Linked DNA regions of Homo sapiens. The protein of the gene in region 1 purifies or fractionates together with the protein of each later gene. This does not show direct contact. Each region holds a gene or a part of one and is shown on either strand. Other genes may lie near its edges.

What was found.
Region 2: the proteins of EMCN (region 1) and PPP1R9A purify together in Homo sapiens (affinity purification with mass spectrometry; one large-scale study listed by BioGRID and IntAct). This does not show direct contact.

What each region holds. Positions count from the first base shown.
Region 1 is NC_000004.12:100,514,086-100,520,186, forward strand, and holds the start of EMCN (endomucin isoform 1 precursor), read right to left. Parts: upstream 3,938-6,101; 5' UTR 3,830-3,937; coding exon 3,766-3,829; intron 1-3,765. UniProt on the Homo sapiens protein: Endothelial sialomucin, also called endomucin or mucin-like sialoglycoprotein, which interferes with the assembly of focal adhesion complexes and inhibits interaction between cells and the extracellular matrix.
Region 2 is NC_000007.14:95,266,614-95,271,161, forward strand, and holds part of PPP1R9A (neurabin-1), read left to right. Parts: intron 1-1,936; coding exon 1,937-2,094; intron 2,095-2,593; coding exon 2,594-2,894; intron 2,895-4,548. UniProt on the Homo sapiens protein: Binds to actin filaments (F-actin) and shows cross-linking activity. Binds along the sides of the F-actin. May be involved in neurite formation. Inhibits protein phosphatase 1-alpha activity.

The DNA.
Region 1 (6,101 bases):
CTAAAGAACATTCACCTCTCAACATCACCTCTGGCTCCAGGGGCATACCGACTACGCATCAGACACTTTTAATTTACCATTGAACATCTCTACATAAATATCAGGATTACAAAATCACCATGTCCAAAACCAAATACCATTTTTCTCACTAAACCGTCTCCTCATATCTTTCCTAATCTCTGCTCCCAAGCCATTTTCCTATTTCTGGTATTAAAAAAAACTCTGTCTCTGCATTTCAGTCACATTCTCCTTCACTGCCAGTCAATGATATGTCAAATCACACACTTTCTACTTCCTTAAAGCTCTTCCTAGACCCTTCTTTTCATTTTATTGACACACTCTCAGACTTGCAATGACAGTTGACCTAGTTTCCTTACCTTTTATTTCTCTTGACTCCAGTAGTCTAATCTATATTCTGCTGACAGATTAGTCTTCCCATTTTATAGCCATGATCATATAATTCCCATACTCAAACCATTTACAGACTCAAACTAATTAACTATATGAGTCAATATTTCTCATCCTGGTATTCAATATCTCCTGAGGCTATATTCCAATCTTATTTCTCAGTACTTAACTATGCCCAAATTGTGACCTCTTTATGTTTCTAGACTAGAATATACCAATGTTTCAATGTATCTACTCAATAAATTCCCTTCCTCTAGAACCTCTTGATTTTCAAGCTTCAAAGCTTATAATAATTTCCACTTTTATATGTAGCCGTTTCAGATGTCCTTACATCCAAAACCAGGCTAGTTGTAAATTTTCTATGTCATTCTTTATTTACCTCTTAAAGCCTACAATATAGCCAAATTGATAATAACTTCCCTCATCTTCCTCTCTCCCCCACTTCTACGGTGAGGGTTAACTTTTATTAAGTTCTATAAACTTACGATATTTAGCATGGAGTCTGCTGATAGTGTGTTTAATCTTTCTTTTTCATGAAATTGAATGTTCAATCACTAACAAAGGAATTTCTCCAAGCAATTAAATCCTTCTTCATATACCAATAAAGAAAATGGTGTTTGTCCCTGTCTGAGAATGCCTACAACATTTTAATATTTCCCAAGTTAAGGCAAATTTCAAAAAGCAAGTGGCACTTGATGAGTAAGTGCATATTGTTTCCTTCTTCTTGGAGGAATCTCTCTTCATTAACTTCTCTCAGCCCTGAAAGTCAAAAGCTCATCCATACATCTAGATTTAAACGCCAGGGTAGGGGTCTGTTCAGTTTTAAATACAATTTAGAAAACCTTAAGAAAGAATGGCAGTTCCGTTTCAGAAACCTTCCATACACATTTCAATAGAACAGCTTTCCAAATTGGAGACTGAAAAAATATTATACCACCAACCAAGTAATAAAAAGTAACTCACTGACTGTGATGTAGAAAGATTCCCTTGATTTTCACAAACAGCATGAAAGACTGTATTGTAGTTATTTAAATCTGAGACTGACAAAAACATCAGAAGAAAAGAAAAGTAGTCAATTTATCTAAAAGATAATTATTTAGGAATAAATTACTACGCAAAAGAGCATGGATCTGCTTGACAGCTTGTGAATTTAAGGCAGATGAAATGCCTCCCTCCTCACCCCCAAGAATCAACTTTGCTGATGAAATATGTTAATCATTCCTAAGTTTGAGGAACATGTAAAACTCTGAAATCAAATGTGTATCTGGAACTAGGGGTTAAGGAAAAATAAAGGTACTCAGTCAGCTTAGGAAATGCTTTCTTCCCTGTGCCCAATCTGCAAAAACAAACAAACAAACAAACAAACAAAAAAACAGGCAGAACCAGGTACAACAAAATCATACATGTAGATGGGAAATTATCTTCCAATCCTTTCATGCTCCACTCAAATGGTCAATTTATACTCTTGAGCATAGCCTCCTCTCTAAGACAAATGGAGTAGGTTTGGTTTGTTTGTTTGTTTACAGATACTGGCCTTCAGTTAACAAGTAGACTTGTTGGCTGACTTGAAGGAGATAGTTATTATGTAACTATTGTCTCTGCTCAAATGGAAATTATCCTACAGGGGTTAACAGTTCATTAGAAAGAAGAACTGTTAACAGGTTGAGCTCATTACCAGTGAGCAAAAGGAGGTTTGTATTTTCCCAAAATGACCATAACAGAAAAACCTGCCAGTACATCTCTGGATTGTCCTTCATCTTCATGTCTTTCTTAAGGCCAGGTATTGCAGGCTACTTCTATTGATGCTATTCCACTTTACTTTCGGAAGAACGAATGATCTATTCAGAGTTTAACAATGCCGGCAAAGTATTGCACTCGTCGATGCTTGCAGACCTGGAGCAGCGAGCAGGCTAAGCCAGACTTTCAGACTTTATACTAATCTGACACATCTAATTGTGAGCAATATTTTCCATGGGATTGAGATTCCTATCAATCTTCCCCAAGCAGACCGAAGTTACTTATAAGCTAATGCAATAATTTCTGTGGTACCACATAAATGTTCTTTATTTTAAAAAATCAGATTCTAGTAACTCTTCTAAGTGAAATTTTCTGGCCTTGATACCAGCTGCAACTTAACCGCAGAAACTCCAAGATGCATGATGAGCAAATGTGCGTGAATTTGAAGTGTTTTTGAATTTGTACTAAATTTACATAGATATTTACATAGAAATGACTGATAAAATGTTGTTCAGGGAGGGATGTACTTATTTTCTTCCGACATTATCACTGTAAATTAAGATTTTGTAGGCAGTAATCTTTTAAATTGAGAATGAGCAAAATAAAATTAGAAATGAATGTTTTTGTTTTTTTCCCCCCAAGACCCCTCAGAGTCTGAATCAGTCTTTCCCAATTGTGTTCTTTTATGGTAGTTTGTTCTTCAATTTTCACACTTATTAAATCTATTTTATATTAAAATCACATGCTTATTTCTCCCAGTAGTACTTCTACCACTTTGGGCAAGGACGTCTTACTTGTTTTTATATTCCTTGCAGTACAGGGTAGGAACCTAATAAATATTGATTAAATTTAACAGTTTATTTTCAATCACTCAGGAAGGGTTAAAAGTCAAATGTAAATCGTTCTTGAAATTGTCCATTGATATACTCAAGGCTTATGAAGATACAAACCTATTTTTTATCTGAGTTTCTTAACCAGAAGTCAATAGGTAGGATTTTTATGTTTATAAATTCCTGAAATGTTATGCAAAATGTATGTATATGTTTAGATATGTGCATATTTCTTCAGCAAAAATCTATAGACTGTAATCAAATGAATCTCTCTCTATTCACCCTACCTCAAAATATTAGGACTCACTTCCCTAGGCAGCTTTACTCAACTCCTCAATTTATCAGAGCTGAAAAATAGTTGGGAAAAATACAGGCTAACATCTGCAATATAATGTCTCCGATTACAGCCTTTCACCCACACATGCCAATCTTATTATTTCTGAGCTATGTCTGCAAAGAATACATTTTTGAGAGAGAGTACATTTTTAACCAGCATTCTATTCCCAGATTTTTATACTCTAAAGAGGCCATTGTATATTTCCAGTACTTTGTGATTTCATCGAACATGCTTTCAGGCTGCTGTACCCGCAAACATTTCCCTTCAGTAGAAACAAATACCGTCTCTCTCAAGCCTTCTCCACGCACTCCAAGTCAACATCCAAACACTCAACTCATCAAAGGAATTGCTGCATCTAAGTGTCAGGGGAAGATCCCTGAAAGTAAACTGAGGCTGAGTCACCTACTAGTGATTTCCAATCCGTACCACCAGAGGAATAAGAGACAAAAATACCTGTGCTGTTACTGCTGCAAATACTGGGCAGAAGAAAAAGAATGGTCACTTGAAGCAGTTCCATGGTGCCCGTAGATGGTGTCAATATCTTCTTTCTCCAGAAGCAGGCAGGGACAATTCCCTCCCAGCCTGGCAGGGCCTTATTAGCAAATGGAAAAGGTGTAGTGAATGTGAATAGCCACTGCCCATTCCTACTTATTTTGGGGGCTCTGATAAAGAACGGGAGGAAATACACACACTCCCTTTGGGAGTTCAGCAGAGAGGAGATTTATTGTTTCAGTCCCTTACAGGAACTCTTTTTTTTTCTCTCTCTTCCTTTGGCAGCCACTTGTGTTTTTGTTACTACATTATTTTGTTCTTCTTCAACAGAAAGGTCGGGACTGGTTTTGAACAGAAACAGATCCTTCTTGAGAATGGATCATAGGGCCTTCTAACTTTTGTTTTGAAAGTGCATTCTGAAGTGGTTATAAAGGGGCCTCATTTAGCAGCTACTCAGTTGGGATAAAGAGGCTTTCACTGCCCGAGGGTTAAATTTTAGAGCAAAATCCATCAGGAATCAACTTAACTTTTCTCTTTCCAACTTGAAAGCCAGATTAGAGAAGGCCACCTTTTGGATATAAGTGAAAAATTGTATTAAATAGATTATGCTCTGCTCTTGAGTAAGCAAAAAGACTTCCAAAGGGTGTACAGAGAAGTTTTTCAGTCTTTTTTAATAGAATTAAGCAAAGACATGTGAATGTCTATTGGTCACTCCTGGTTTTTACTAAAGAACTTTGATGATGAATAAGGAACAATTACTTATAACACCTCATGAATGCTCTTCTTTAGGGGACAGGGTTGGAATGGCAGTGGGTGAAATGCCATCACACATCAGTGAAGCTGGGAGAGGTTGACTCTTTAAGACTGGAATGCCAACCAGGCTGGATAATCTATATAGCAGGGGTCACGTTGATGTCAGTTGTGACTGATTAAAACGTGGTGATAACACTGCCATAGTCCTGGGTACAAGCCCCGTGTGTGCCAATGACATTATATTTTTCTTCAGCCACAGGCTTCATGTCTCATTTTAGCTGATCATCCTTTTACGTACCTTTACTCATGAGGCTTTACTGGACAACATTGTCAATGAATCGGTGTAGATTCATTTTCCCCACAAAAAAAACAAACAAACAAAAAAACAAAAACTGTTCAAAAATTATACCTTTACCTGTTTGCAAGAAGGGCACACAGTTTCACTGCTGCACCATGCTGGAAAATACTTCATACAAAACGAGTTAGACTGAGTCAACTGCTCAAAACACTTAAAAACGTTAGCTTGTTTTATCCAACGTTATACCAGGGGTCAGAAGAGCTAAGTTTCTATTTTGTGCATAAGATTGCATTTTACCCTCTTCTAATTGATTTTCTAAAACAGACTGCCTTTGGCGTTGTTACTTTATTTGGCATATCCTGGAGAATATAAAGATAGGAACATATGTGAATAGATGTCACATGCACTTTCCATAAATAAATTGGGGTGTGGCCATGTGAAATCACAGTCGAACCCTCACATTGCCTCACTTCCTGCTCCTTCTGTACTCAAGTTGTCAGTACTCAGAGTCACCACTGATGCTGGTCACAATAATTTCTTCAGGGATTCCATGGCATTTGGACTCCTCAGCACTAAGTGCTATGCATTTCCATTTAGTACACTAGATACCTATTCTAAGAATGCTTGACAGTAGAATATTAAGGCTACTTAAAAGACAAAGGGCCTGTTGATGAAAAACAAAAACTAAGAAACATCTTAAAATGCTAGCCAAAAAAAATTTAGAATATAAGAACAGAAAAGAAAAAAAAAAAAGGAGTAATAATGAGGGGAGGGGTCAGCCTTGCTTTACTAAATCAGAAGATATTTTTAAGGTAAAATATTTAATTAAAACAGCAATGATTGCCAGAGGAGACAAACAGATCAGTGGCATAGAATAGAAAGTACAGACACAGAAATATTTATATTTGTTTCTATCTACATAAATATACACGCAGATATATTTACAGATATGTGTTTGCATATGCATGCTTGTGTGTATATGCATGTATATATAGAGAGAGAGATTAAATATAGGTGAGTTTAACATGTAGTGACTGTGATGAATAGGGTATATATTTACTGTGGGATTTTTTTGACAATGTGTTAACCATCTAAGAAAATTTTAAAATTAAGTGTCTGTTTTACTTAAAATACCAAATCTTACATGTTAATCTTATATGTTAAAGGTTTAAGTTTAAAATACAAAGCACAAAATTCTAGGAGAGAATATGGGCTACTATATATAATTGAGGTAAAGGGGACATTT
Region 2 (4,548 bases), on another chromosome or scaffold:
TCAGGAGAGAAAAAAAATACTTGATTGGTACCTCATGGGGCTGTTGTAAGGAACAAATGAGATAGAGTATGTGGCATGATTTGTATTATAGAGCATACAATCCAAATATGAGCTAGATAAGGCATAAAACGTGCAAGTACTACATACAGTGTTTCTAATTATATTACAGCTTTCATCTACGTGGTGTTCCACATTTTATATTTAAGCAAGAGCTTATAAGATTGACTCTCTCCCAGTTATCACAACTAATGAACTCTTAATGGGCAGCTACAAATATAGATTTTATCGGAAGGAGGAAATTAAAGTGATCAAGGAATTATTTTTTCTCCCCTGACATGTAAAAAGTAAAGAGACTGCTAATTAGAAAATATTTAGCTGTTCTTTATAAGTACCTGAATGGTCTGAATTTTCTGAGTATTCATTCTTCATTCAGATATAGGAAATGAAAAGTCAAAACCTTCTCTAAATATTGTCATTCAATGGATGTATCTCCTGGGCAAAAATGTAGTTAATTTTGTTTGTTAGAGCCATATACTAAGTGCTAGGTTTCATAGACAAGAGGCACAAACTGAGGTGCTTCCTTGCTTTGGTTTTGTAGTATAGCATATTTAGAGCACATCTAGAATAATGCTGTAAAAAGGAATTGCCTGAGCTAATAATATTATAAGAAATTGTTTATTCTGTTAATACAAGTACATAATTTTCTGCAACTCAGTTATTTGCACTCAATTATTAACTCCTTGAACATGACTTCAGCTAATGACTGCCACTCTGAAGAGATAAAATAGGATTAATGATCAAACTCCTTTATTTCTAAGGAGTGATTACATATGCAAATGAAAGGAGTAGTAGCATTTCAAATAAGTTCCACCAGAGAGTACTTTTCCTTAACCAATATCCAGGTATGTTAATGGGTACCTTTCCTTTAGAATGTTAACTTCGGGGTCCTAACTTAAAATCTAGGTAGCAAAATTAAAGGTGGTAAGAGCCAGGCTAAAGAGGACTAATTGAATTCTCTCTGTGGCCTTTGCTGTTAATAGTTCATTTTCTTTGTGTCCCACTTTACTCTCTTTTTCTTTTAGCCTTTTTATTTAAAGACTTAAGTATTTACCCTTCGAAAATCAGTGTCGTTTCTGGTGGGGAGAGAAGGTATTCACAGAGATGAGTCAGAGGCACATACAAATAACTTGTAATACAAAGTTAGATGTTAATGAAAGAAAAGGAAATGTTTATCCTACCTCATCCACAATACTAGTAAACTAAGTACTTACGATTTTTTAACTGTTTGTTTCTTCATTTGTGTAGCCAGACCTTGTTTCTTTTCCCCAGCTATCGTCAATTTGCTGATTAGGTAAATTCCTCACTGGTCTTTCTACAGGTTTCAAAAAGGAACAAGGTAGATTTTCAGAAACTGTTTTGGGTTGAAAATTATATATTAAAATGAAAATGATATAGTACCTGAAGACTGCTAGTAAATTTTGCTACAGTAAATTTATGATAGTTACCTTCTGTTGCCTGTAGTTGAACTGGAAACCTGACTTTGTAGGTTTTTTGTCCTTGGTTTCTAAGATCTGTCAACTTTTGATATACCCTCCTCTATATCTTTGGTCATCTAACTTCCCAACATGCATACACATAAATAGTAAATACAAATTAGTGATTTTTATAATTATATTGCAGGAAGGTTGTATGCTTTTCGGATGTTGGATTTTTATAGCGCCTTCATCATCTTTAGTGTTGGTTTCTTCCTTTGACTTTGTATATTTCTCCTAAGCCCCACTGATTTCTTGGTTATTTCTTGGTTACAGGCTGTCATGGTGGTCACCTGATCCTTACCTGATGTTACTGGTTACCTTGAGATTTTATCAGTGTCTGTGGTCTCTTCATCAGTTCTCTCCAAAGGTTTCTCTCACTGATTATCTTTCAATATTCTTAGACTTGAATGAAGCAGTCCCAGAGACAGAGCGCCTGGATTCAAAAGCACTGAAAACTCGAGCCCAGCTCTCTGTGAAGAACAGACGCCAGAGACCCTCTAGGACAAGACTGTATGATAGTGTTAGTTCCACAGATGGGGAGGACAGTCTAGAGAGAAAGGTGAGCACCCTTGACCGTTTCCTGATTTGTACTGTTGGAGTATATCATTGTTCCTACAGCTTATTGAAGATTATGATTTTTCTGCAAACAGAGTCTATGTCCTAGTTGGTAAGCAGCTAGAATAGTTCACGTCTTTGTCTCCTGAATTCTTTATATTGTTGTAATTCAAAATATTTTGTCTATTCATTCAGTGAACTAACCAAGAGCATTATCTGTATTGTCATATTTCATGATGGTGCTTTTGATATTCAGCTATTGGTTTTACTTAGTGGGAAATAATGAACGTACAAGTAATTGTTTCTGTAGGTCTTAGGTATATGTATTAGTGACGATGTTAATATGGTGAATTGGTATGAACCATGCATTCTCATCTGTAAATCAACAAAAACTGGTTTTCATGGGGATTCACTAATAAAAGGTTGGTCTTATTTCAAAGTAAGTATTGCATAGAACTGATACTCAGTGGCATAACCTTCCTTATAATCTCTTATACCAACAGCCATCAAACAGTTTCTATAACCACATGCATATTACCAAATTACTTCCACCTAAGGGTTTGAGAACGTCTTCTCCAGAATCAGATTCTGGTGTTCCACCCCTCACCCCGGTGGATAGCAATGTGCCCTTCTCGTCTGACCACATAGCTGAATTTCAAGAAGAACCACTGGACCCAGAAATGGGGCCTCTCTCCTCTATGTGGGGAGACACTTCACTGTTTTCTACTTCAAAGTCTGATCATGATGTGGAAGAATCTCCTTGCCATCACCAAACCACCAACAAGAAAATATTACGAGAAAAAGGTATTGTTAATTTCTTTTTCTGACTTCATAACACCTCAGCTTGTACAGTATAAAAATGACTTTTTCTCATAATCATAAGTCATTTGTTTTCTCATAGCTAATAATTAATATTAATTTCTTTTTATATTATAGAATAAGAGAAACAACCCCTCCATGTATTTTACTTTAATTTAGTTTTATCTTTTCCTATCTGGTTCAGTATTTTTATCTCTTCAGCTCTCTATAAGTTTACTACTCAAGGGAGTTCTTCAGGGGAGTGGGGCAGCCCAGAGTTTCAACAAACACTAACACAGTCATAAAGAAAAAAACACTACATAGTCATATAGAAAAATATAGAGCGATTTTGTAGAATAGCAGCCCAGAGTTTCAGTAAACACTAACGTAGTCATATAGGAAAAAAAGACGAAGATCAAAGTAACACAGGCATATAATTGATACTTAATAATGTTCTTGGATGAATTGCTAATATACCTCTCCACGTAACCAGTGCAGATCTTCTAGAAGAGGGATAATCAACCGAATGTAGTCTCCACCTGCTTTTGTAAATGAAGTCTTATGGGAGTACAGTCACACTTTTTTACTTACATACTATCTATTTTCATGCTACAGTAGCAGTGTTGAGTCGTTGTGACAGAGACTGTGTATCTCACAAACCTAAAATATTTTACTCTGTGGCCCCTGAAAGGTAAAGAAAGCTTCCTGATGCCTGGTCTAGAAGTATATTTTCTTATACTCAAAATTGCTGGATAAACTCTGAAAATGGCTTCATCATTGGTTGCCATTTATCTAGAATTTTTAAAAAGTGTTATACCTTTACTTTTGGTCTATCAAGTTACCACAAAGATGATTAATTACAGCCATGTTTGATTGCAGGCTTGAGGATAAGGCTCTGGTTACCCTAACAGGAGTTGGCGATTTTCTGAATTGTGTCAATACCACATTTACAAATCATTTTTTTTCATATCTGAGGGACATCAGTGGAAATTAGGATGGAGAAGTCCCATTATAACTGGCTAAATGATAAGCATCTAACGGAATATCAAATTAGAGGAAGTAAAAGATTTTTTTCTAGAGATTTGTAAAACAGGTTATATGCCAGTAGAAGGCATGAAAATATTTTCCTCGTTCCTGTTATATAAACAACCTAATACTAAAGTTTTGGTCCCGAGGCTTACATAGCACTGGGCCTTTGTTCAGTCAAGATTAAATAAAGTAAATTGAACACTATCAATTTTCTACTCACAATTACTAGAGATTATTATTCTAATTTTTTGTGTGGTTAATAACACATTATTTGACCCAGAAGATGTGTTCAAAAATATTCATTGAATTAATGTCTAGTAAATAGAAACTGGCTTTTTTAAAGCTTTACAGGATTTATTGCTTATTAAAAGCATTGGGCCTCTGCAAGTATAGATAGAGTACAATTATATCAACGCTCAGAAGAGAGAGAGATTGCGTCCAGCTGAGGTTGGTAAACAAAACCTATCCAAGGAAGTACAATTAGAATAGCCATCAAAGCACTTAAGGGAAAAAAAGGGTAGGTAAGGAGGGAATAGCGGGTAAAGTGATGTCATTAACAGAGACAGGCACATATCATATGATTTAAAGGTACAAGGCTATCCCAGCCTGGCTGTAGCAGTTTGCTTATGCA